Linked DNA regions of Homo sapiens: region 2 is linked to region 1. The links come from fine-mapping of genetic effects on gene expression. A gene starts in region 1. The other region holds a variant in brackets. All regions are shown on one strand. Distances are from middle to middle.

The links. PIP is the estimated chance that this variant, and not a neighbour inherited with it, causes the effect.
Region 2: its variant is fine-mapped to the expression of TMEM106A in blood mononuclear cells (TOPMed, PIP above 0.99).

The regions. Positions count from the first base shown.
Region 1 is chr17:43,203,109-43,220,148 of GRCh38, forward strand. TMEM106A (transmembrane protein 106A) reads left to right here and starts at 8,767. Exons shown (of 9, transcript NM_145041.4): 1 at 8,767-8,814; 2 at 9,119-9,286; 3 at 9,913-10,144; 4 at 10,720-10,783; 5 at 12,680-12,833; 6 at 13,341-13,481; 7 at 13,589-13,632; 8 at 14,151-14,204; 9 at 14,573-16,933. The coding sequence starts at 9,934. The coding sequence ends at 14,693. NBR1 (NBR1 autophagy cargo receptor) reads left to right here. Exons shown (of 21, transcript NM_005899.5): 20 at 573-678; 21 at 6,793-8,580. The coding sequence ends at 6,966. RefSeq lists an enhancer at 13,662-13,956.
Region 2 is chr17:43,018,318-43,028,054 of GRCh38, forward strand. VAT1 (vesicle amine transport 1) reads right to left here and starts at 4,068. Exons shown (of 6, transcript NM_006373.4): 1 at 3,619-4,068; 2 at 275-482. The coding sequence starts at 4,005. It overlaps RND2 (Rho family GTPase 2), which reads left to right and starts at 6,914. Exons shown (of 5, transcript NM_005440.5): 1 at 6,914-7,132; 2 at 7,643-7,730; 3 at 8,866-8,975. The coding sequence starts at 7,031. RefSeq lists a silencer at 6,738-6,877. The variant C/T (reference allele first, on the strand shown) is at 3,874.

The sequences.
Region 1 (17,040 bases):
TTGCACCATTGCACTCCAGCCTGGCTGACAAGTGAAACAACATCAAAAAAAAAAAAGAGTGTTTTATGTTTCAGACAAGGAAATAGTGTCCACAAATTACCTCACTCTTAGCACTGGGGAAAAGGTAGAAAGGTTAAGCCCAGTATACATTTAAATAATTTTTTCTTGGACATACCTGGTTCTCTGCTTCCACTCATATTAGGCCAGTGTCCAGAAAATCACATTTCCTTTGCAAGGTGTTTTCTCTGAGAGAATAATTGAGCAGACAAACTGTTGATATCCTTGTGTGTCCTCGATCACATTAATTTTCAGCTAGGAGTGAGAGCCATCATGGTTACCAGAGTGGTGTGTTTCCTGCAGTGCCCCTATCTTGCTTGCACCAGTAGAGCTGGGCCCTCCATCAAACCATGATCTGTAGCTATAAAGCTGATAATGAAAGCAATTGTGTTCTCTTTTTCCATCTAATTTTTTCTCTTAAGGAAATCTTATTCCAAGGATTAGAGCCCAGATTATCTTGTAAAAAGGTAATGATTTGTGTTTGTTTGGGGAGATAATTTGGTTTTCCTCTGCAGGCACCATCATGGGAGCAGCATTGCTGGAGGACTGGTGAAGGGGGCTTTGTCTGTTGCTGCCTCTGCATACAAGGCCCTGTTTGCTGGGCCACCAGTCACTGCACAGGTCAGTGTGTGTGTTTTATTTTCCTGAATCTCAACTCCATGTCACCAGTGAAAGTGATGGCATCTGTCTGGGTTGAAGAGTAACATGGCATTGTGGAAAGGGCATAGGCTTTAGATTTAGTCTTTAGTTAACACACAACACAACTCTGCCACTTTTTTTTTTTTTTTTTGAGACGAAGTCTCGCTCTGTTGCCCAGGCTGGGGTGCAGTGGCGCGATCTCGGCTCACTGCAAGCTCCACCTCCTGGGTTCACACCATTCTCCTGACTCAGCCTCCCGAGTAGCTGGGACTACAGGCGCCTGCCACTACACCCGGCTAATTTTTTGTATTTTTTAGTAGAGACGATGTTTCACCGTGTTAGCCAGGATGGTCTCAATCTCGTGACTTCATGATCTTCCCGCTTCAGCCTCCCAAAGTGCTGGGATTACAGGTGTGAGCCACCGCACCTGGCCAACTCTGCCACTTTCTAACTATATGACTTTAGCCAAGTTACTTAAGGGAAGAAAAGAGAAGAATGTATTATTGATGATCTATTAATATTTTCTATAGAGAGAAGCTATTCCAGGTGTTGGCACTATGGCATGAATAAAACACCAGTTCTTGGCCGGGTATGGTGGCTCTTACCTGTAATCCTAGTACTTTGGGAGGCCAAGGTGGGAGGATTGCTTGAGCCCAGGAGTTTGAGACCAGCCTGGGCAACATAGTGAGACCCCCATCTCTACAAAAAAATTTAAAAATTAGATAAGTATGGCCGGTACAGTGGCTCACACCTGTAATCCCAGCACTTTGGGAGGCCGAGGCAGGCCGGATCACAAGGTCAGGAGATCGAGACCATCCTGGCCAACATGGTGAAACCCTGTCTCTACTAAAAATACAAAAATTAGCTGGGCGTGGTGGCAGGCACCTGTAGTCCCAGCTACTCGGGAGGCTGAGGCAGGAGAATTGCTTGATCCAGGGAGTCAGAGCTTGCAGTGAGCCGAGATGGCACCACAGCACTCCAGCCTGGCGACAGAACAAGACTCCATCTTAAAAAAAAAAAAAAAAAAGTATGATGGCATGCACCTACAGTCCCAGTTACTTGGGAAACTAAGGTGGGAGGATCACTTGAGCACCGGAGGTTGAGGCTGCCGTAGTGAGCCACAATGGAGCCACTGCACTCCAGCTTGGGTGACTGAGCGAGACCCTGTCTCAAAAAACAACAACAAAAAAGACACTGAGTCTTGCCCAGAAACTATGGGAAACAAGTGAGGTGCATGGATACTTAAAGTACATAGTAAGATACTATGCTGGCCGGGTGTGGTGGCTCATGCCTGTAATCCCAGCACTTTGGAAGGCTGAGGCGGGCGGATCGTGAGGTCAGGAGTTCGAGACCATCCTGGCCAACATGATGAAACCCCGTCTCTACTAAAAATACAAAAATTAGCCAGGCATGGTGATGTGTGCCTGTAATCCCAGCTACTTGGGAGGCTGAGGCAGGAGAATCACTTGAACCTGGGAGGTGGAGGTTGCAGTGAGCTGAGATTGTGCTACTGCACTCCAGCCTGGGCAACAGAGTGAGACTCCATCTCAAAAAAAAGAAAGATACTATGCCAGTGCTATCAGACAGATGAAACACTTCAGCCTGGTGTGCCCAAGTAAGGCTTTCTGGTAGATGATGCCTGAACTGAGTCCTAAAGGACGGAGTAAATGTTCATCAGGAAAGAGGGAGGGAAAGGGTATTGTAGACAGTGTAGCCAGTAAAAAAGACTTGGAAATGTGAGCATGGAGTGTGAATCCGGTCTAAGAAGAGGAGTAAGACGAAAAAAGACTGGCTGGGCTTGGTGGCTCACACCTGTAATCCCAACAGGTTGGGAGGCCAAGGCTGGTCGATTATTTGCGTCCAGGAGTTCAAGACCAGTTTGGGCAACAGGGCAAAACCCTGTCTCTACTAAAAACATAAAAAATTAGCTGGGCATGGTGGTATACGCCTGTGGTCCCAGATACTCAAGAGGCCGAGGTGGGAAGATCACTTCAGCCCGGGAGGCAGAGGTTGCAGTGAGCTGAGATCACACCACTGAACTCCAATGTGGGTGACAGAGTGAGACCATGTCTCAAAAAAAAAAAAAAAAAAAAGGCTGGGTGTGGTGGCTCACGCCTGTAATCTCAACACTTTGGGAGGCTGAGGCGGGTGGATCATGAGGTCAGGAGTTCGAGACCAGCCTGACCCACATGGTGAAACCCCATCTCTACTAAAAATACAAAAATTAGCTAGGCGTGGTGACGTGCCTGTAATCCCAGCTACTCAGGAGGCCGAGGCAGGAGAATCGCTTTAACCTGGGAGGCGGATGTTGCAGTGAGCCGAGATTGCGCCACTGCACTTCAGCCTGGGTGACAGAGCGAGACTCTGTCTCAAAAAAAAAAAAAAAGAAAAAGAAAAACAGACCAAATATGTAGGCAGGATGCTGTGTTATGAGGTTTGGATTTTATTTTAAGGCTAATTAATAGGAGGAGCAATTGAAGGGTTTTAAGGAAGTGATTGACATGATGAGATCTGTTTTTAGTAAGATTACCGGCTACATTGTAGAGGCTGGTAGAGCCAGTAAAGAAATCCAGTTGGGCGTGGTGGCTCATGCCTGTAATCCCAGCACTTTGGGAGGCCGAGGCGGGCAGATCACGAGGTCAGGAGTTCAAGACCAGCCTGGCCAATATGGTGAAACCACATCTCTACTAAAAATACAAAAATTGCCGGGCGTGGTGGCACGTGCCTGTAGTCCTAGCTACTCGGGAGTCTGAGGCAGAAGAATTGCTTGAACCTGGGAAGCAGAGGTTGCAGTGAGCTGAAATCATGCCACTGCACTCCAGCCTGGGTGACAGAGCGAGACTCCGTCTCAAAAAAAAAAAAAGGAAATCCCTAAGAGAATCCATGTATTGGTGGAAAGGAAGGGTAGAAAAGATAATTAAGAGATGGAAATGGCATAACTTTGAGATGATGATTAAGTGGCTAAAAAGAAGGATAGGCTGGGCACGGTGGCTCACATCTGTAATTTCAGCACTTTGGGAGGCCAAGGTGGGCAGATCACTTGAGTTCAGGAGTTTGAGACCAGCCTGGGCAACATAGTGAAACCTTATCTCTACAAAAAATACAAAGAAATTAGCCGGACTTGGTGGCGCACACCTGTAGTCCCAGCTACTTGGGGGGCTTAGGTGGGAGAATAGCTTGAGCCCCAGAGGCAGAGGCTGCAGTGAGCTGAGGTCATGCCACTGCACTCCAGCCTGGGCAACAAAGCCAGACACTATCTTGGGGTGGAGGGGAAAAAGTCAAGGATAAATCCCAAGTTTCTGGCTTAGTACCATTCATTAAGAGCAGAAGAAGAGAACTAGGTCAGTTTTGCTGGACAGTGTTGAGTTTGTGGCATATCCAGGTAAAGGTAAAGATATCCAGAGTGCAGCTGGATATATAGTTGTCCCTCAGTATCTATGACGGTTGGCTCCAGGACCCCCTGTGGGATACTGAAATCCATAGATGCTTAAGTCCCTTATATAAAATAGTGTAGTATTTATATATAACCTAGGCACATCTTCTTGCTTGCTTGTTTAGTTTTAGTTTTTTAGATACAGGGTCTTGCTCTGTCATCCAGGCTGGAGTGCAATAACTAGATTGTAGCTCACTGCAGCCTAGAACTCTTGGATTCAAGCAATCCTCTCACCTCAGCCTCTTGAGTAGCAGGGACTACAGGTGGGCACCACCATGCCTAGCTAGTTTTTTAAAAATCTTTTTGAAGAGATGGGGTTTCACTGTGTTGCCTAGGGCAACTAACTCCTGGCCTCAAAACAATCCTCCCACTTCAGCCTCCCAAATTGCTGGGATGAGAAACTTGAGCCGCTGCACCCAGCCCATCTCATATACTTCATCTCTACATTACTTACAATACCCAATACAATGTAAATGCTATCTGAATAGTTGTTATACGGTATTCGGGAATAATGACAAAAAAGTTTGTACGTGTTCCTTTTTTTCTCCCCAAATATTTTCAGTCCTTTGGTGACTGATCCATAGATGAGGAACCCACAGATAATGGCAAGCCAACGGTATCCATCCAGATCACAGGGGAGGGATTTGGCCTGGTGATACATGCTTGAGAGTCACTTGCCTACAGATTATAGCAGAAGCCATCTGATGGAATGAGATGATCCAGGAATAATGGGGAAAGCAAGAAGCAACCTTTAAGGATCAGGGAAAGGAATACTCTGAAAGAAAGCTGGGAACTAGGAGGAAAATGAAGAGAGAGAGTTCTATGCTGGAACTTAAGGAAGGGTGTTTTAATAAGGGGGACATGGTCAACGGTGTTAGATGCTACAGAGAGATATGAACTGGTGGTGAGGAATTTGAGAGTAGAAGTATGCCACACTTTCAAATAGACAGGCTACAACAGGCAGAAGCTAGGATACATAAGACAAGAGGAAGCATTTTTAAAGTTGGGTGAGACTTTAGAGATGGGCAAGCCAGCAGTGAAAGAGGTTAATGATAAAGATGAGAAGACAGATTGGAGATGGAGAAAGATTTCTGAAGTGGTGAGAGGTAATAAGATACAATGCAAGGTACATTCCATTAACCTGCAAAGGAGGATGGATAATCTATTCTGAAATAAGAAGGTAGAATGGAACAGTGGAATCAGGTTTGGAGGGAAATGCTTAACATGTTTGCATACTGTTCTCATCTTTACATACTTTTTCAACAACCCTGCAAAGTAGGAGGTATGATATATCTTCAGTTCATAAAGGAATTGATAGCACAGTTGGTAAGTAAATGGAAGATTAGGGTTTGAGTCTAAGCCTATCTGCCTCCCAAGTTAATAATCTTTCTGCTGCACAGTTTCAGTATCCCCAGTCTGTGAAATTGGGATAATAACAGAACCAGAGGCCAGGCGAGGTGGCTCACATCTATAATCCCAGCATTTTGGGAGACCAAAGTTCAAGGATCACTTGGGCCCAGAAGTTCAAGACCAGCCTGGGCAACATAGGGAAACCTCATCTCTAGTAAAAAATTTAAAAATTTGCCGGGCGTGGTAGCGCAGACCAGTGGTCCCAGCTATTTGGAAGGCTGAGGCAGGAGGATCACTTGAGCCCAGGAGGTTGAGGCTGCAATGAGCTGTGTTCACACCACTGCACACCAGCCTGGGGAACAGAGTGACACCCTGTCTCAAAAAACAAACAAAACAACAACAACAACAAAACAAGCGTTTAAGGATTTAGGAAGGTAATGCTTCCACCACAGGGCTTGAATGAATGAATGTTAACTTCCTCTTACCTATTCTTGTTTTTTTTTTTTTGAGATGGAGTCTCGCTCTGTCACCCAGGCTGGAGTGCAATGGCGCGATCTCGGCTCACTGCAAGCTCCACCTCCTGGGTTCACGCCGTTGTCCTGCCTCAGCCTCCCGAGTAGCTGGGACTACAGGCGCCTGCCACCACGCCTGGCTAATTTTTTGTATTTTTAGTAGAGATGGGGTTTCACTGTGTTAGCCAGGATGGTCTCAATCTCCTGACCTCATGATCCGCCCGCCTCAGCCTCCCAAAGTGCTGGGATTACAGGTGTGAGCCACCGCACCCAGCCCCTCTTACCTATTCTTTTGGAGGAGAAAAAATCAAGAAGCCTTCCCAGGTTGTAATTTCCCAAGCTGTTTTTTTTGTCCAGCTCCTCTGCATATCTGACAAAATTTCCCATAGCATCTTTCAGTAACACTTTTATCTTGCTCATACTTCCCCCATCATCACAATTACACTTATGTTCACAGGGTCTCTGGGGCTTGCTGTCATTCCTTCATCTGGCCAAAAAATGCTTCTTCCTGAAAGCCCCGAGTGAAGCATTCTCCTGGTTCTAAGTACAGTTCATTAGCTCCCCGGTTTCCCTTTTCTCCTCCTTCAAGTACACAGATAACTAATCTAAAATAGGGCCTTCCCAGTCCGAACCGTTGGTATCAAGTACACAGGAGTGCCATAGCCTTGAATCTAATTACCTAGTACTTTGAATAAATCTGGAAAGACTAGTATGCTTGCAAGATGATACAAATGTATAAAATAAACATTTAAATTATACAGAATTTTTTTTTTTTTTTTTGCTTTGCTTGTCTCTACACAGCCAATAATTTCTGAAGATCAGACAGCAGCCCTGATGGCCCATCTCTTTGAAATGGGATTCTGTGACAGGCAGCTGAACCTACGGCTGCTGAAGAAACACAATTACAATATCCTGCAGGTTGTGACAGAACTTCTTCAGTTAAACAACAACGACTGGTACAGCCAACGCTATTGAGGAGTGACCTTGTATTAAATAACTGCCTGCTGCTCAGAGATGATCTTTATTCTGTCATTGGGGTATGGGATAGAAGCCCTTGCTTATTTTTAATCTGATGAATCTGTATAGAGCCCATCGTTGAGTTACCAAGACAATACCTGCTACAGTATTTTGGGGAGCAAACTAAAGACCAGAACTTAAATTTTCACTTTAGACATTGGATGAATAGTATGAAGACAGTTTTTCAGTTGATTTGGATAAAACTATTTTAGTGCATTGACAAGTGTAACTTCAACTTCATATAGAACCATTTTTCTTTCTGCTTTTATTGAAACTGAGTATTTTTCTTTGGCTAATGTGGATTTTTTATGGGGATATCTGTTAATTTTCAGGTTTTGAAAGACATTAACCTCGGAAGTTGTTTTTAAGAATTATTCTCATAATTCTTATTCTCATAATTTCTGTAATCCACCTCAAGCTTCATAGTTATTTGGCATTGAAATAACACCCAGAGCATGATAGAAATGTTGTTACTCTTCCTCTCTCAAGGAGAAAGTAATTTTCCTGCAATACTTAATAATTGGCACCGTTGCTTTCTAAAGACTCCATGGTGCATTCAAGAGTATCCAACTTCAAGGGAATCTCCGCATTTCAATGAAAGGAGGAAGAGTGTGCTGATAAACCTACCAGCACCTATTGAGCAATGTCTATTATAGTAATTTTGCATACATTTTTATTTAAGGGAAAAAATATAGGTATTGTGAAATATTTTGCTAATCTTATAGAAAAGGAAAAAATCCCGTTATTTAAAGGGAAAAGTAAATTTAACAGTTGCCTTTTTTCTTAATGTCAGGGCAGATCTTATTTTACAGTACAGTGGGGGAAATAGAAACATGTGAAAGGCAAAAGGCAGGCTCCTAAATTAATGTCAGTGAAGTTCAGGGTGGGCAAATGAGTGTGTGTGAGGTATAGGAAATGCTGATGACTTCTTTAATGCTTGAAGTCCGTTCACAGGTATCTAGCCCTAGAATGCCTAGAACAGGAAGAGGCAGCTGGTGTTCTGCAAAACTTGGACAGGGGCAAAGTTGCTGAAAAAGTTTTGGTTTAACCCGAAGATAAGTGGAAAAGAGCTTGTCCATGAACCCAGGTTCTCACTCTGTTTACAGAAGTGTGTTGAGTACAGTTGGTGAAGGAAGAGGTAACAAAAAATGCTAAATATTTTATCCATGAAAATGACTTCCAGAAAAGGAAGAATATGAACCCCAGACCGAAGGGGAAAAGATAGTTAATAGTATTATCTAACCTGGTTGGTATTTGTAATGAATGGTGATTTTAATTAGTCATTAGCCATAATGATGTTTATTTACAGTATAACTCCTGAATGCTACTTAAATAAACCAGGATTCAAACTGCAAGCCAGCCAGGCCGTTCATTATTTAAAACGTTTTAATCGGGGCTTCCGGGTAGAAGGTGGAGCGGCAGGGTGTAATTGGGTTGATGGGTGGGACCTGTCTTGACCATCGGAGTTTTATAATCGAGGGCCAGGAGGGCCCGGGTTGCTCTCCTGGTTATGTATGTACTTGTACATAACCACCTAAAGAATGGTGAAATAAATGTTCTTGGAAATTCCTACCCGGACTGGCTAGTCCTTGCGGAAGCAGCGTCCGGGCCCTCGGGTAACGTTTGAAGAGCTGGCAGCGTCTCAGGCTGCTGCGTGGCGAAGGGGCGGACCGGGGGACGGGGGGGTGGGCCCTTAGGGGCTGGGGCGGGACTTCCCTGGGCACTGAGTCAAAGCTTGAGGGGAGTGTTCGCTCCCGCATTTTCGATTCCACTCTCTTCCGTTTCTGTCGCTGCAGTCGTCCGCGGGTAAGGCCCTCCCTAGACCCTTTATACCTACTTTACCTTTCGGAGGTCAAGACACCTCCTGTTGCCGCCTCCTCGCCCAACACACAGGCGCCCCCCGCACGGGTACCAAGCTTGACTAACGGCCTCTAGGGGTGTGTGGTGGGACTTGAAATCCTCCCTTAATGAAGTCACACCTTCTCCGTCCGCTTCCACCCGGTCGGCCCATGGCAGAGCCCCCATGTAGCCCAGGAATCGGCTTGGCCCTTCGGGGAGGTCAGCGTCCTTACTATCCCCACTCTCCAGTGCGGCACATTCGTTCCCCTAGGACTCCGGCCGGTTGCCGGCCCCAGGCGGTGCTTCTCCCCACCACCGCCCAGCTCAGCTCAGCCCAGCCCAGCCCACTCTGCCCTTAGAGGCCCTTCTCCCCAAAGACGCACTCCAGAAGTCTCGCCCTCGTGCGGCTGAGGAGCCTGGGATCCCAGACCTGAACAAGGTGAGCATCCCTATATTTTAGCCCAGAAAGATCTGTGTGGCTCACTTGCCGGCCTCGTTCTGTCACACAGAGTCCAGATTTAGCCTTGAGTTTTCCTAGTGAAAGACAGACCCTGGTATCACTATGACCCTCCTCAGGCTTTCTTACCCCGCCTCAGAAAGCAGTGAGGTGTCTGCTTTCTCCCAGGGCTTCTTTAGATAGGGGTCTTAACCACACCTGTGACCAGTCTGGCCTCCTCTCTCCTTGATTCAAAGAATCTCTTTTCTGCCCTATCCAACTTCCTTCCCTTAAACTGAATGACAGCTCAGCAACTTTTCCAGAGAAAAATTAAATGCTCTGACAATCACTTATGGAAGTTCCTTAAAGTGAAGTAACTTCTGCTTTTCTTTTGTTTTCCCTTTTGTAGGCAGATTGGTCTCTTTTAAAATAATGAAAGGAGTCGAAATGCATTGAGACTTCTGAGAGTCCCATGTGACCACCCAGTTTTTCACATCCTATCTTCCTTAGGCTTGAGCTTGCTTAAACTGTGGTGAAGCTCCTTGCCAGTCTTGAGAACTTCAAACCAAAATTACATCTGGCGTCAGTGCTAACAAGCTTAGCACTGAACTTTGGTCTTTTCTCATTAGTGAAACCCCCGCCCCTGAAGAATGGGTAAGACGTTTTCCCAGCTGGGCTCTTGGCGGGAGGATGAGAACAAGTCAATCCTGTCCTCCAAACCAGCCATTGGCAGCAAGGCTGTCAACTACTCCAGCACCGGTAGCAGCAAGTCTTTTTGTTCCTGTGTGCCTTGTGAAGGAACTGCTGATGCCAGCTTCGTGACTTGTCCCACCTGCCAGGGCAGTGGCAAGATTCCCCAAGGTGAGTGGCCCAAGGCTCTGGAAATAGCCTGGAATCCAGGGAAAGTTCTTAGCCTGTTGGCCTGGGGCAGCCCCTCTGAGTCTCCTTGGATGGGGTTAGATCTGCTCCCAGCTCTTGACCTCCCAGTCTCAGGCTGGCCAGGGAGATACTTAACTATCCTTGGGTTCCCTGCAAAAACCTGCCCTCCTTCCCTGGTTGTATTCTCCAGCCCCTTGTGGGAAAGAAGGATTCTAGCCACTGTGCTTCTGAGCAACACTGTGTGTCCTAGGATTCATTCAGTTCAGGAAGTTACAAATGAACTTTCCAAAGATGCTGGGCATCTCTGATTTGCTGGTGACTTTCAGAGATTCTTCATACCTATTAGTGGAAATCTCACTTCCATTCTAGAGATGGCAAAGCTGAGCTGCCAACTTTGGTAGCAGAGTCCAGTGCTTCCAGTCCTGCTCTGGGGCAGATGTGGCATGTTTCTAACATTGCTCTATGGTGTGGGTGGAGGCGTGCTTCTGGGAAGCTGGCACAGTAAATATTTGTCACAGTTGCATCTTGGCCCTCCCTCTCACCTTCTCTCTCTCTAGAGCTGGAGAAGCAGTTGGTGGCTCTCATTCCCTATGGGGACCAGAGGCTGAAGCCCAAGCACACGTAAGCCCCCCTTCCTCCCCTAGCTTCACAAGCCATTGCCCCTGGGGGCTGCTCCCTTTGTCTCCCCTGTTTTGATCTCCCTTAATTTCTTCCTATTAGTTCTTCCATAGAAAGCCTGAGCCTCAGAGGTACCAGCTCCTTACGTCCAAGGATTTTTTCCTGATTTAGAAGCTCCTGGACCGGGTGTGGTGGCTCATGCCTGTAATCCCAGCACTTTGGGAGGCCAAGGCAGGCAGATTACTTGAGCTCAGGAGTTCAAGACCAGCCTGGGCAACATGGTGAAACCCCATCTCTATCAAAAAAAAAAAAAAAAAGAAAAAAAAAAAGAAAAGAAAGAAAGAAAGAAAAAAGCAGCAGCTGTGGGCACAGCAGATGTCACTTGAGGCCACCTGGTGGGCTTCCTTAAGCATCACTGCTTCCAGAAAGCATGGCCCCCTCTCCAAGACAGGAAGGATCTGGTAGCTCTGCAAGTCCTCCCAGGAAGGAGGGAACAAGCATGTGGCCCTGGCTGCAATTGATTTGAAAATGTTATTTTTCTTAAGCACCTCCCTTGCTGAGGCAGTTCAGATTTGCTTGTTTTTCTTCTAGTAGAGATGAAAAACCTATTGTCCGCTGTTCTGGGATACTTCAGAACCTCAGGCAGACCTGGGGCCTACTGTGTTTGTGATCTGAGTCCATCTGACATGGAGCTCCCTCAACCTCCTCCCAAGGTCCTGGTGTCAACCTGGGAGTCACCACCAAGCCGAACCCTCTCCGCCACCCCACTATACCAGAATTAGAAATCAGGCTGGGCGTGGTGGTTTATGCCTGTAATCCCAGCACTTTGGGGAGGCCAAGACAGGCGGATCACCTGAGGTTAGGAGTTCAAGACCAGCCTGGCCAACATGGCGAAACCCTGTCTCTACTAAAAATAGAAAAATTATCTGGGCGTGGTGGCAGACACCAGTAATCCTAGCTACTTGGGAGGCTGAGGCAGGAGAATTGTTTGAACCCAGGAGGTGGAGGCTTCAGTGAGCCAAGATCATGCCACTGCACTCCAGCCTGAGCAACAGAGCGAGGCCTCATCTGAAAAAAAAAAAAAAACAAAAAAAAACCCTGTAATCCCAGCACTTTGGGAGGCCAAGGCGGGCAGATCACGAGGTCAGGAGTTTGAGACCAGCCTGACCAACATGGCAAAACCGCCTCTACTAAAAATACAAAAATTAGCCGGGCATAGTGGCAGGCACCTGTAATCCCAGCTACTCAGGAGGCTGAGGCAGGAGAATGGCGTGAACCCGGGAGGTGGAGGTTGCAGTGAGCCGAGATCGTGCCACTGCACTCCAGCTTGGGCGACACAGCAAGACTCCATCTCAAAAAAAAGAAAAAAAAAAGAAATTAGCAGTGCACATCATAAGATACTAACAAAGTACTATCTCTTTAATGCATATCTGAATTTTGAATTGGATGGATGGTGTCCTGTTCTGAATGTTAAAATTCAGAACTTCCAAATATGGACTTATTTCTTCTAGTGATAATAACTAGCATTCATTGTGCTTTTGCCATGTGCAGGGACCTGTGATTAGTATTTTTTCATATATTAGCCGATAACAAATTCTGTGAGGTCAGTACAATTATCTGCCTTTTACCAACAAGGAAACTGAGACTTAAGGAGGCTAAGTGGGCTGCTCCATGTTATTGGGTCAATGGGAACAGAGATCTGGGAGTGGAAACCAGGCTGCCTGCCTGCCAATCCTGTGCTCCTACTCATTCCGGGCCACATCTGGGGAGCTAAATGTTGTTGGGGTAGTGTGCAGGGGAAAGCTTTGTATATGGAGAGGAGTGTCTGAACCCCCTCTCCGAGTTTCCTTGGTGTTCAGACTTTTCCATTCCTCCATCCTGGGTCCTGCTTTCCCACAGGAAGCTCTTTGTGTTCCTGGCCGTGCTCATCTGCCTGGTGACCTCCTCCTTCATCGTCTTTTTCCTGTTTCCCCGGTCCGTCATTGTGCAGCCTGCAGGCCTCAACTCCTCCACAGTGGCCTTTGATGAGGCTGATATCTACCTCAACATAACGGTGGGTGGGTGCCCTTGGCTCCAAACCCCCCTTCCTAGCAATACTTCGCTGTAACCTTTGTCCAGTGTTATGACCCTGGGCATGGGAAGCCAGAGATCTTATGGCACCCAGAGGGTGTTGGGAGCCTGAAGAGAAGTAGGAGCAACCATGAGCTCCATGACAGATGGTAAGGATTGGGACTCTACACAGTAAGGGGTCAGAATCCGGGCCAGATAAGTAAACCACAGGGGTGGAGTGGGGTGACAGTGCCTGAGACTCTCTGGATGGACAGGACTGAATGGAAAGAAGCTGTACAGGATGGACCTGGATCCTGAGGCAGCTTAACTTCGTAAAGTTGACCCCTCACCATTCAATGCCCCTCCAAGGGGCTCCCAGTTTTCATCCTCTGCACCTGAAGCTTGTCATGGTAGATGGGGCTCAGGCCAGACAGCCAGGCTTTTGCAACTGTTTGGCTTTTCCTAAGGATGGGCCATCTTCACTCCTCCCTTCCCTTGTCTTCATCCCCAGAATATCTTAAACATCTCCAATGGCAACTACTACCCCATTATGGTGACACAGCTGACCCTCGAGGTTCTGCACCTGTCCCTCGTGGTGGGGCAGGTTTCCAACAACCTTCTCCTACACATTGGCCCTTTGGCCAGTGAACAGGTGACTCCCCTCTCCCTGGCCAGCCCTGCCCACTGGTGTGTGGATGTGTGGTAGTGGGAAAGGGGCAGCTGGAGTTGGGGCTAACCCTGTGCCCATTTGGTTGACAGATGTTTTACGCAGTAGCTACCAAGATACGGGATGAAAACACATAGTGAGTACCCCTTGATCTCTTCTCCCCTAGCCACTTGCCTGGCTTAGGGACCCAATTAATACCCACCAGCTTTCCTGATTGCTTAGCAAATTCTTCAGCCAGCATCTGGCCTGCCCTCCCATGGCCGAGAATGTAATAAGCAAGGGTTCAGGGTCCCCAGCCTCTGCTTGTTTGGACCTTGATTAGAATGAAAAACAGGCTGGAATTTGGTTAATCTTTACAATATGTGACCTTGGGCTCTTCAGCCTGCATTGCTGAGGAAGAAGAATGTTTTGTCTGTCTCCTGAATGGGGGTCCAGCATGTGCCTGGGCCAAGTGAGTGGAGGTCAGAGTGATAGTGCAGCCATGCTGCTACACTCACCTGAAGGGTGGGAAGGGGTGGGAGTGACATTTTGGGGGCACCTGATGGAAGGAAAGAGTTCTGTGGGGTAAGGAAACTGGGACCTGCAGGCATCTTCTGAGCTGACAGGCTGCTCCATGTGACACGTGGTCCCACGTTCTCTTTTCTTCTCTCTCAGCAAAATCTGTACCTGGCTGGAAATCAAAGTCCACCATGTGCTTTTGCACATCCAGTAAGTAGAGCTTGGAGCTCTGGTATCCCTGCTCTCACTTCTGACTTCATTCTCACTCAGCTACACCTCATGGGCAGAGAGTCTTCCAAGCTGACCCCATGAATCTTTGTTGGCTCTTGGGAATAGCAAGTCTAGCCCCTTTTCTGAGTCTCACCTTGCCTATAAGTTATTAGGGGCAACAGGCATAGGGCTGTCTGGAAGCTGCTGGAAAACAGGTGGGGCAGCTGTCCCAGGTACCTTGGCAGAGTGGGGAGCCAGAGGGAAGGGCAAATGAGGGAGCTCCCCGCTCCCCACCCCCAGACAGTATAATGGGGCCAGAGCTTTCCTTTTCCTCCCAGCCATGGCAACAAGGCCTGCTTCCTCTCCAGGGGCACCCTGACCTGTTCATACCTGAGCCATTCAGAGCAGCTGGTCTTTCAGAGCTATGAATATGTGGACTGCCGAGGAAACGCATCTGTGCCCCACCAGCTGACCCCTCACCCACCATGACCTGTCTGCTGTCCCTGTACTCCAGGCACCTGCAACCCTGGTCTATATCTCCCACAACTCCCTGGTGACTAAGGAAGGACTACAGAGGCTTTGCCAAAGGAGAAGCCCTGCCTCATCACACCCTTACCTCCCACCCCCTCAGCACAGGAAGCTTGCTTTGAAGTTAACTTCATACACACACACTCATATCCTCCAGTTTCCCCCAGATTCTTTCAGGGGCTGCCATCAGATTCTGCCCTTGGTTAGTTTTTTGTTTTTTTTTTGGTAGAGACAGAGTCTCACTGTTGGTCCAGGTTGGTTTTGAACTCCTGGGCTCAAGCGATCCTCCCTTCTTGGCCTCCCAAAGCACTTGGATTACAGATGTGAGCCTGTGCCTGGCTGGTCTTTCTTGAGGAAAATCTGACCTGGCATTTTCTTGAGGCACCTTAGATTCCCTGGAGTGGCACCTGGCCTTTCTGTACTGAGCACCTGGTCAGTCTGAAGGGGGCATTTCACCCCAGCTCCATCAGGGCTGGCTGTCCCGTCTGAATGTGGAGAGAGCTGTAGTTTTATCTGGCTTTTAAAACATGGACCTGCCGGCTGGGCGCAGTGGCTTACACCTGTAATCCCAGTACTTTGGGAGGCCGAAGTGGGTGGATCACTTGAGGGCAGGAGTTCGTGACCAGCCTGGTCAACATGGTGAAACCTTGTCTCTACTAAAAATACAAAAATTAGCTGGGTGTGGTGGCATGCGCCTGTAATCCCAGCTACTCGGGAGGCTGAGGCAGCAGAATCACTTGAAACCGGAAGGCAGAGGTTGCAGTGAGCCAAGATCGTGCAACTGCACTCCAGCCTGGGCAAAAGAGCAAAACTTTGTCTCAAAAAAAGACTCTTTTCAAGTTTTCTACCCTCTGATAAGAAAATTTGGGGATATCCAGTGCCATCTCCAAGGACTTTCAGGGGATCATAGATGCTTTTCTGTGCCTATCTGCTTTGACCATGTGAAAAAGTGATAGTCTGCTTCTCTCTGGTAACTTGTCTGCCACCCATCTGATAGTAAGATTAGCCAAGGCCCTTTAGCCCTCTGTCCTTTCTGGTTATTGACTGTCCCTGGTTCCTAGGAAGACAGAGTTGTTCTCCAGCTAAAGCGTCTCCTCTCTATAAAGTAGTTTTACTATTCTTTTCATAGCAGGAGCCAAAATAGTAGAGGAGGGGAGAGAGGCACCTGGCACTCTGCGGGCCTGCACAGGAAAAACAGAGCCAAAGACAGAATCATTGTATAAGATATTTATTAAAGGAGAGCCTCTAAGTCCACATCCTGAGCCCATGTGAGTGGACACAGGTAGGTAAAACGGTGGGTCCAGCTGCTGTCATCTGAAAGCCTTCAGGAGATGAAGCTATCAGTATCCAGCTGAAGGCTGCTGGGTTCTGTTCCACCACCACCTTAGCACCAGGGCCCTCTCTGGTCCCAGAGGCCTCATCTCTCCTTGGGCTTTGACAATGTGGAGCAGCACATCAGCAGGGACTGGTCTAGACCCTCCCTTTCCTGTCACTTAGCTGGAGCTAAGCTCCAGATAACCCCTAGGTTCCCACTGGCTCCTAGTAGAAATAGTTTCTGTACTTTAGCAGAACAGGAAGGATATTTGTTCATTAAAGGTGGCTTGGTCTTACAGCTGGGTGCAGTGGTATATACCTGTAGTCCCAGCTACTCAGGAAGCTGAGGTGAGAGGATCTCTAGAGCCCAGGAATTCAAGTTTAACATGAGCAGCAACATTAGCAAGACCCCGTTTAAAAAAAAAAAAAGAGCTGGGCGTAATGGCGCACACCTGTAATCCCACCTACTCAGGAGGCTGAGGCAGGAGAATCACTTGAACCTGGGAGGCAGAGGTTGCAGTGAGCCAAGATCGCACCACTGCACTCCAGCCTGGGCAACAAGGGCGAGACTCTGTCTCAAAAAAAAAAAAAAAAAAAGATGGCTGTCTCTTTATCATTCAGACAGAACGATGAACACAGGTGAGCAGGGAAAGCTAATTTTGAAGTAGGATGCATGGAGAGGGAGAAGTGGTGACAGAACTTGGTAACTAGCTGGCTGGGGGAACGAGGGGAAGGAAGGAGACTGCTGTCTCCAAGCTGAGGTCAGGGTGGTGTTGGCAAGAGCGCAAAAGTCCAGGGAAGCCAGGCTGGAGCTGCTGTGTATAGACTGCCAAATGTGAAGTATTTATATTGTATTCAATAAACTATACTTAAGAGTGTTCAAAAAAGTCTCCTGGGAGTGGGAAGGGAGCTAGTGGATACTCCCTATTTCACAAACTTTTCTTTTTTTTTTTTTTTGAGACAGTTTCGCTCTGTTACCCAGGCTAGAGTGCAA
Region 2 (9,737 bases), 190 kb before region 1:
TTAGGGCCGTGTCTAATTTCCATGACTGAGAAGTGGTGGGGAAGGTAGCTAGAGAGGTGGGGGTGTGGGGTGAGGGCACGTTGCTAAGGATAGCACACCAGACTAGACCTGGTGCCTGAATGTTACCACGGCAACTACACAGCAGAGGCCTCTGGGAGCCACAGGCCAAGGCAGCCTGGTGTTGCCATGACAACAACCCAGACAGGCTGCAGGGAAGGGGCCTGGAAGGAAATCTGGGTGGGGTAAGGGGTGATAAAGTGAGGGGACCTGTCACCTGCAGCCATGTGTACCAAGACGCTGTGGCCAGGCTGTAGGTTGCCGAAGTCAAAGAGGACCATGTAGGCTGTAATGTAATTGACGAGCAAGGCAGCAGCTTCCTCAAAGGTCATGGCCTCAGGAATCAGGAAGGTCTGGACCGAGGGCACAGTCACCTCTTCCTGCCACATCCCTGACCGGTTCAACACCATCACCCGGTCTCCTGCCTTGAAGAACAGAAGAGTATCATTCAGTCACTCATTCATTCACCCACAGGCTATTTACTGATTTCCCCCTAGGTACAAGGCTACCTTCTTCCAAATGAAGTAGCAGGAGAAGCAGCAATAGTCATGGTAATAATAATAATAATAACATCATCATCAACAACAATAACAACTCACCTTTACTGAGTGCTGACTGAGGGCCGAGCCCGATTTCAAGTGCTTTATATATAATGCTTAATTAACCCTTACATCAGTTCTTTGAGGCAGATACTATCCTTATCATCTTCTTACAGATCTTACATGTCACTATTGTGTAAGATCCCTGAATGCAAGAAGCTTACAGTTAGGGCAGCATGAAGTATTGTGGAAAAGATCAAACTGCTGTGGTTACAAAAGCGGTCTCAACTGTTTACTGACTGTGTGACTTCGGATGCATAAAAATTACTTAATCTTTTTGAGCTCCACTTTTCCAGCTCCAGTTTTCTTATCTGTCAATTAGGGCAGTTTTTCCAAATGGAAAAAAAAAATTTTAGCACAATGTCTGGCACATAATAAGCACTTAATAATGTTAGCTAACAATAATAATAATAATAATATAATAGCAGCAAGGAAGTCACACAACCAAAAGAAGACGGCACTGTGTGGTCAGGGCCATACCAAAGTGCAGGCAAAGTTCTCTGAGCGCTTACAGCAGGGTGTGGTCACCTCGGGAGAAGTGTGTTTGAGCCAGCACTGGGAGCCCAGAAAACATCTTCACTCAGAGATGGTGCAGGAGGGGCAACAGACAAGAAGGGCTACAGAGGCCTACGCAGCAGTAAAAGGCTTCCCCCCCACCCCCACGAGAGCCTCTGTGCAGGAGGGAAAGGGGACAAAGATAACAGAACCTTTCTCTCCAGCTTAGCAAGTGGGGTCAAGGGAAGGGCAGGGAAAAGGAGGGAGCGTCAGGAGAAAAGACTTCTCTGCGCTCTCTGAAGAGCATGAAGAGGGAGGTGTGGGTGCTGTTCTGGGACAATCTGGGTCTGTCTTGATCCCTGCCAGGAATGATGGGAATTCTGTATATTAACAAGAGTTAGGGTCCATGGGGAAGGGGGATGGGACTGCCACTTACGCCCTTTTTCATGTCCTCAAGCCCCCACACTCCACTGAATACGAGAACTGAGGGCATGCTGGGGTCTTTCCTTCCAAGTTCTGGCCTGAGATGAGGTCTGGAGAACAAGAACGGAAGCCCTCCACCCAGGGACTCAGGACTAGCAGATACAGAACAACCCAGGAGAGCTGCGAGGAGTGCATTGGTCATTTAGGGTCATGGCCAGTCCCAGATTTGACCCAGAACAAGTCTCACTTACCCTGGCTCATGCTAACCCTCAGGCCATCCAAATCAGGGCCATGACCCCTCCCCAACCCAGACACCAGGAAGGAGGAGGAGGGAGAGAGAGGGAAGGGCCCTCCCCGCAGAATCCAGGCTCTTACATCAGATTCTTGCCCTGGACAGGATATCCTGTATTTACCAGGCGGAAAGTGTATGGAGGGGAGGTGAGGTGGGTGGCCTTCAGCAGTAACATGAACTACAACTACCTCCCGAAAATATTCCTCTTAGACGCCTGCTCAAGAGTGGGATCATTTAGAAGTCAGTTTGAGGGTGGGGCCAGAGCTGAATTCAGAGGAAAGCCTTAAGGAGAAGCTGTTTGCATACAGGATGAATCCAACAAACCTGGCTCCAGAATTGGGCTGGCAGGTCTGCAAGAGGCTGCATCTGTGGGGCCTCTCATTGAGGGGTCTGATTTAAAAAGGAAACTCCTGGCCAAGCGCAGTGGCTTATGTCTGTAACCCCAGCACTTAGGGAGGCCGAGGTGGGCAGATCACCTGAGGTCGGGAGTTCGAGACCAGACTGACCGACATGGAGAAACCCATCTCTACTAAAATACAAAATTAGCCAGGCATGGTGGCGCATGCCTGTAATCCCAGCTACTCGAGAGGCTGAGGCAGGAGAATCGCTTGAACCCGGGAGGCAGAGGTTGCGGTGAGCCGAGATCGCGCCATTGCACTCCAGCCTGGGCAACAAGAGCGAAACTCCGTCTAAAAAAAAAAAAAAAAAAAAAGAAAAAGAAAAAAAAAAGAAACCTCTAAACAAATGGCGTGCTGAGGCCTCATCCCAGGTCTCTCAAAAAGCTGATCATTTTGAGCTCTCTGGTGTCCAGGGTTGTGGCCAAGATTAATGATAAATGAGAAGGAGAAACAGGCCTGCAGACTTGGCCAACCAGTTCAAGGCGCCGCACCTCTCCGTTCCAGTCCAAACCCCTGGCACTGGGGTTTCTGAAGTGGGGGTCCTCTGCAGGAGGAAGGCAGAGGTGGGTCCCCCCTTCCACTCCCCGCCCCAGGCATTCCCAAGGGCAGCCCCGGGTCGTGGCCCGAAGGCTGAGGGCTGAGTCACAGGAGGAGGAGATACTGCAGTCACGGGAGACACAGAGCCCAAGACAAAGATCGGATGACCCAATCCCGCCTCCCCCACCCCAAAATCAGATCGGCGGTGTAAGGCTGGTGGCGGTGGGGTAGCAAAGGCTCTCTCTCCTCCGTGATGGGCGTGTCTCGTCTCTTTGGCCTTGCTTTGGGAGGGGCCGCCTCACACCCCCACAGACCACGGGGCTGCATGTGACCAGGACTCTGGCACGGCCGCTGTGCCCCCGCCCAACCCCGACGACATAGCCCCTCAAGCTCCCTCGGGGAAAGGGGGCACTAACCGTCACTCATAGTCACAGACCACAATTACCCAGAGAGTGTTTGGTGGGTAGGGGTACAGGTGTGGTTTTAATGGGGGGGGGGGGGGGGGGTGGGGACGGTAGTGTGGTTGTGCGCATGCGCATGGGCACCTTATTGTTTTCCCCCCCACCAGCACAGCTTCTGGGCGGCGGCCACAACTAAAAATGGTTGGGGAAGGGGCGATAATTTCGTCTCCCCTCCCCACATAAATGCCGCTCTCCAGGAGCCCCCAAACACAAGTTCCTTGGCTACGCTTTCCACGCTCGTGCACCCAGGTCCGCGCCAGTTTCTCCCGCCCTGCCACACCCCCGGCGCTCGCCCACTCGTGCCCCACTGCCCAGTGGCCTGCGCAGCCCTGCCCTGCCCTACGCAACCCGCTCACCTTGCGGTCGCTGACTCCCTCGCCCACTGCGATCACAACACCCGCGCCCTCCATGCCCGGAGTGACAGGCAGAGGCGGGAGACGGTCGTACAGCCCCTGCCTAGCCATGAGGTCTGCGAAGTTGAGCCCGCAGGCCCGCAGACGCAGCGTCAGCTGGCCGGGCCCAGGGGCCGGGGGCGCTGCCGGCCGGCTCTGCAGCTTCACCTTGTCGTAGCCTCCAAAGCCGGTGAGCACTAGGCAGCGCAGCAGTGGCGG[C/T]GAGGCGGCGGCGGCGGCGGCCCCTTCGGAGGCCGCGGGATGCTGGGGGTCGCTCGCTGCCTCGGTTTTCGGAGGCGGCGAAGAGGCGTCTTCCCCGGTCGCTGCCTCGGCTACCTCTCTCTCGTCGGACATGGCTGGGACTCCCGACGAGAGCGCACAGCTGGATGGAGAGTGCACAGCTGGGGAAGGCGGAACGCGTCGGGAAGAGCCGCGGCTGCGGGATCCAGCGGGAGGGGCGGGGCGCCGGGCGAGGCGGGGCCTCGCGCTCAGCCTTAAAGGGCCAGGGCCATAGTGGCGCAAGCTGGGAGAGCACGAAAAGGGGCACCAGGAACGTCTGTGCTCTTGGGATCAAGCCGACTGTGATTTATTTATTCATAGTAAACCTTATTCAAATTAAAAACTATTTTAAGGGATAGGCCTGGCGCGGTGGCTCACGCCTGTAATCCCAGCACTTTGGGAGGCCGAGGCTGGTGGATCATTTGAGGTCAGGAGTTCAAGACCAGCCTGGCCAACATGGTGAAACCCCCGTCTTTACTAAAAATAAAAAAGTTAGCCGGGCGGTAGTGGCGCGCGCCTGTAATCTCAGCTACTTGGGAGGCTGAGGCAGAGGAATCGCTTGAGCCTGGGAGGCGGAGGTGAGCCGAGATCGCGCCACTACACTCCAGTCTGGGCAACAGAGTGAGACCCTGTTAAAAAAAAAAAAAAAAAGGGCCGGGCGGCGTGGCTCACGCCTGTAATCCCAACACTTTGGGAGGCCGAGGCGGGTGGGTGGATCACCTGAGGTCAGGAATTCGAGACCAGCCTGACCAGTATGGTGAAACCCCAGCTCTACTAAAACTACAAAAATTAGCCAGGCATGGTGGCAGGTGCCTATAGTCCCAGCTACTAGGGAGGCGGAGGCTGGAGAATTGCTTGAACCCAGGAGGCGGAGGTTGCAGTTAGCCAAGATCATGCCGCTGCACTCCAGCCTGGGCTACAGAGGGAGACTCCATCTCGAAAAAAAAAAAGGCCGGGCGCGGTGTCTCACGCCTGTAATCCCAGCACTTTGGGAGGCCGAGGCGGGCAGATTACGAGGTCAGGAGATTCACCTGGCTAACACGGTGAAACCCCGTCTCTACTAAAAAATACAAAAAATTAGCCAGGCGTGGTGGCAGGCGCCTGTAGTCCCAGCTACCTGGGAGGCTGAGGCAGGAGAATGGCATGAACCCAGGAGGCAGAGCTTGCAGTGAGTCGAGATCGCGCCACTGCACTCCAGCCTGGGCTACAGAGCGAGACTCCGTCTCAAAAAAAAAAAAAAAAAGTTAAGGAACAGTCCCAAAACTTGAACTTACATCAGATTTGGAGTTAACTCATATCAGATTTGGAGTCAGCCACCTGTGGACTGGAGTCCAACTACATTGTGTCTCAGGCTCTGACATCTAACCCAGGCAGGGATGAGACTTAATTCACTGTGGTCTTGCAGTGGCAAAGTAGAAGCATGGAGACCAAGCCTTTAAAACTTTCTGACTTTGGTGTTAACGTTCTGTTCCTCATTTTCCCTTCTGTAACATAGTGATGATGCTGCGTGCTCTAGTTATATTTATATTTTTATTTTTTTGATACAGGGTCTCACTCTGTCACCCAGGCTGAGCGAGGTGGGGCGATCACAGCTCCCTACAGCCTCAAACTCCCGGCTTCAAGCAATCCTCCCACCTCAGCCTCCTGAATAGCTGGGACCACAGGCATGTGTCACCACGCCCGGCTAACTTTATGTTTTACTGCTCTTTGCAGAGCAGGGCTACCCCATAGGCAGCGTGCCTAGAGTGGCCAAACCTAGCTAAGTTTTGATTTTTTTTTCTAGAGAGAGGGTCTCGCTAATGTTGCCCAGGATGGCCTCAAACTCCTGCACGCAAGCAAGCCTTGGCCTCCCAAAGTGCTGAGTTTACAGGCGTGAGCCACCGCGCCCAGCTTCTAGTTATCTTTACAGAATTATTTGCAGCATATATTATTGACTCGAATTGCCTCGATATAAAAAAGCACTTTTTTTTTTTCGAAACTCTATTGCACAAGCTGGAGTGCAGTGAGGCAATCTCGGCTCACTGCAAGCTCCGCCTCCCGGGTTCACGCCATTCTCCTGCCTCAGCCTCCTGAGTAGCTGGGATTACAGGCGCCCACCGTGCGGGTTTCACCGTGTTAGCCAGGATGATAGTCTCGATCTCCTGACCTCTTGATCCGCCCGCCTCGGCCTCCCAAAGTGCTGGTATTACAGGCGTGAGCCACCGCGCCCGGCCTATTGTCAGACTCTTAATCAAGCCTGACTTTTGGGTTTAGCTCTGGCTCCAGCAGAGCAACTCTGGCGGTTGGTTCTTTCTCTTCCTTATCTCCTTGTCCCCAAGCATCCACCAGAGGACGCAGCTCCCCCAAAACTTTCCACCCAGTGCTTGGCTGGAGGAACTCAGTCCACGCTTCTCTGCTAGTCTAGGCCGGCGGTTAAGTCAATGTAACCGGAGACCCGGCTGCCCGTTGCCATGGGGACGGAAAGCTATGATGTCACCACCGTCCGGGTGGGTGTGCTGGGGTTCACCCTCCCATTTCCCCAAGACCCCCTGCCAGGACATAGGCGGACGCGGGAGAGAAAACCAAAGAGGCTCCCTCCTTCCCCTTAGCATCTCTCTCCCGCCGTGTTCAGGAAGTGGATGGCTGCCCCAGCTCTTGTCCGCACTGGTACACCTGCGTGCACGCGTGGGTACACAGCAGGCCCGAGCTTCGCGCTTGTGCCGCTCATATTCTACCCCTAAGAACTTCGCTTGAACTCTGACCTGCCCTTATATCCGAGAAAGTCAAATAAGCCCAGTTCGGCCTGTCCCAAACCGGCAGGGGCCCCTCAGACCACACCGGCGGGCTGGACCCCGGCTCTGAGGCCTCTGTTCCCAGGGCTCCGCCCAGATCTTCTGGGCCCCGCCCCCCGGCTGCGGGGGTGGGAGGAGGGGCCGGGGGGGCGCGGCCGCCTGGCTGGGGGCGGGGCGGAGGGGGGGCCGCGGACCCGGGGCGGGGGCTCGGCGCGGGCCCGCGAGATGCCGGTGTTGGCGGCCCGAGCGGCTGCAGTTGCAGGGGCGGGGGAGGCGGCGGCGGGGCCCGGGAGAGGGGTGGCGTGGGGGACCGGCGCGTAGCCGGGACCATGGAGGGGCAGAGCGGCCGCTGCAAGATCGTGGTGGTGGGAGACGCAGAGTGCGGCAAGACGGCGCTGCTGCAGGTGTTCGCCAAGGACGCCTATCCCGGGGTGAGGGACCTGCGTCTTGGGAGGGGGACGCTAAGGCTGCTGGGGGGTGGGTGACAGGGGCCCTGGCGACGGATGGGAATGGGTACTCGGGTAACCAGGGACAAGAGACAGGGGGTCGGAGGACGCGGGGAGGCCTTGAGGGCTCAGGAAGGACTGCAGAGGATTGGGGTGGGAGGAATTAGGGAGCAGGGTGAGATAGATGGGGTTTGGGAGAACCAGAGCATCCGGGAGGGAGGGCGAGGGGAATGTCGGAGGTCCTGGGCAATGGAGAGGGGAAGAACTAGGGGGCTGAAGGGACCAGAAGGGAACAGGAGGAGGTCTGGGAGCTTAGCAGAGATTCTCCGGGGGGGGGGGGGGGGGGGCAGGAGCTCCCGGGATCTCCCCTTTGCCCAATCCCAGACCAACTTGTGTCCAGGGGCTGGGCTGGACGGGGTGTGGGAGTGAGGAGGGCATTTATCTGGGGTGAGGACTTGGAGAGATGATCTCATCTGGATCCATCCGTGTCTGCAGAGTTATGTCCCCACCGTGTTTGAGAACTACACTGCGAGCTTTGAGATCGACAAGCGCCGCATTGAGCTCAACATGTGGGACACTTCAGGTAGCCAAGTCCCTGGGGGTCACCCTGACTTCCAAGGCGGCCCACTCTGTCCCCTCCCTTGGTTAGACCCTTAGGTTCCAGGTAAGCCCAGCCCATCCATCCAATTCCAACAGGAAGGGAAAAATCAATATTCTGCTAAAATCCAGGGAAACTGAGGTAGAACTTGCAGAGCCTGACAGAAACCATGTCCTGAAGGAGAAAGCCTAGGATCTGAGCCCCTCAGCTGGGTCCTGCCTACCTGGGAAAGTTGGGAAGGAATGGCTTTTAATTTGGAACATGTTCCTTCAGAGATAAGACTGGGTTTAGAAAAGACATTTAGAGGCCAGGCACGGTGGCTCACGCCTGTAATCCTAGCACTTTGGGAGGCTGGGGTGGGGGGATCACCTGAGGTCAGGAGTTTGAGACCAGCCTGGCCAACATGGTTGAAACTCCGTCTCTACTAAAAATACAAAAATTAATCGGGCGTGTGGCACGTGCCTGTAATCTCAGCTACCAGGAGGCTGAGGCAAGAGAATCGCTGGAACCTGGGAGGCGGAGGCTGCAGTGAGCCGAGATCATGCCGCTGCACTCCAGCCTGAGCGATAGAGCGAGACTCCATCTCAAAAAATAAAAAAGCAGAAAAGACATTTAGAATGTCTTGAGTGAGGGGTGGTCAGGAGGCTGTTTCTCTCCATTGAACTAGATAAATCTGAGGTCAAGTCCCAGGAGAATGGGAGAGTGCTCTCCCTGCCACTGCTCTTTTCCTCCTCCCAACATAAGGAGGGTTTTTATTTTTACAAGAGTTCCCTTCAGGGCTTTAGACTGCCAAAGCCCAGAAAGCACATGCAACATTTTATGAGAATGTCTATAGATTTTATGAGCTTCTCAAAGGGGTCCAAACCTCAGTCAAGAATAAAAATTATTACTTTTTAAACCACTAGGGAAGCAGAGAGCCGTTTCCCACCATGTGACCTCCCTTCTGCCCGCTCCCCCACTTGGGAAACCCAGACTCCATGATGGGTATTAATGATGGGTATTAATGGTTGCTCTTTTCCATTCTCTGCTCCCAGCATCCCTTGACCAGGATCTGTAAGGTCTCCCATTCCCTTCCAGGCCTCCCATCCACTCAGGCCCCTCATGCCCTGTCTTCCTTCAGGTTCCTCTTACTATGATAATGTCCGGCCTCTGGCCTATCCTGATTCTGATGCTGTGCTCATCTGCTTCGACATTAGCCGACCAGAAACACTGGACAGTGTTCTCAAGAAGGTGGGAGCCTGGGGAAATAGGGCAGCTAGACTGAGGGGGACCAGACCACCATGGTCCTGACATAACATGGGCCAGGAGGAGGGAGTGATGGCTGGGGTATGGCCATCAGCTGGTTAGCGAGTGAAGCTCTCATCCCTGCCACCCCTGCCTCCAGCCCCCATCCCTCCCAGCCACCCCTTTCCTGAAAGTCCTCAGAGCTGGATACAGCAGCTAGGGGAGGTGGGGGAGTGAAGGGAGAAGCACTCACAGGATTCCTTCTCTGCTCTTCCAACTCCTTGGCAGTGGGAGTCCCAGATGGAGGGGATGGGATGGGAAGCCTGATCCTGGAGCTCAGGAAAGCCCTGTGGCCTCCTCTCCAGGCCCCAGTTTCCATGACAAAAGCCAGGGGTGAATGGACAGAAGTCAGCTAGGGCAGCCCCAGTTCCCAGGTGGGGGAGGGGAGGGTGGGATAAATTTGTTCCCAGGAGAGAGTATGGGAAAGGCGAGTGGGAATGGGAAGTTTCCAGGCTGGCAGACCCTTCATAGCCACTGAGGGAGAAGAGTCCACAGGCCCACGCCAGCCCTCTCCTCCCCGCTGCTTCTCTCTCACCCCATCCTGCTCTCAAACCAAGCCTAGCATTCTCACCTCCTTCCTCATGTGGGAGAGTCCTGAGGGATACATGGTTTCTGCGTGCTTGAGGAAGAGAGGGCACACTGCTGGCATGGCACAAAGGCTCACGCTGTGCCTCCCTCCACCCCTCCACAATTCTCTTTTCTTCTCCT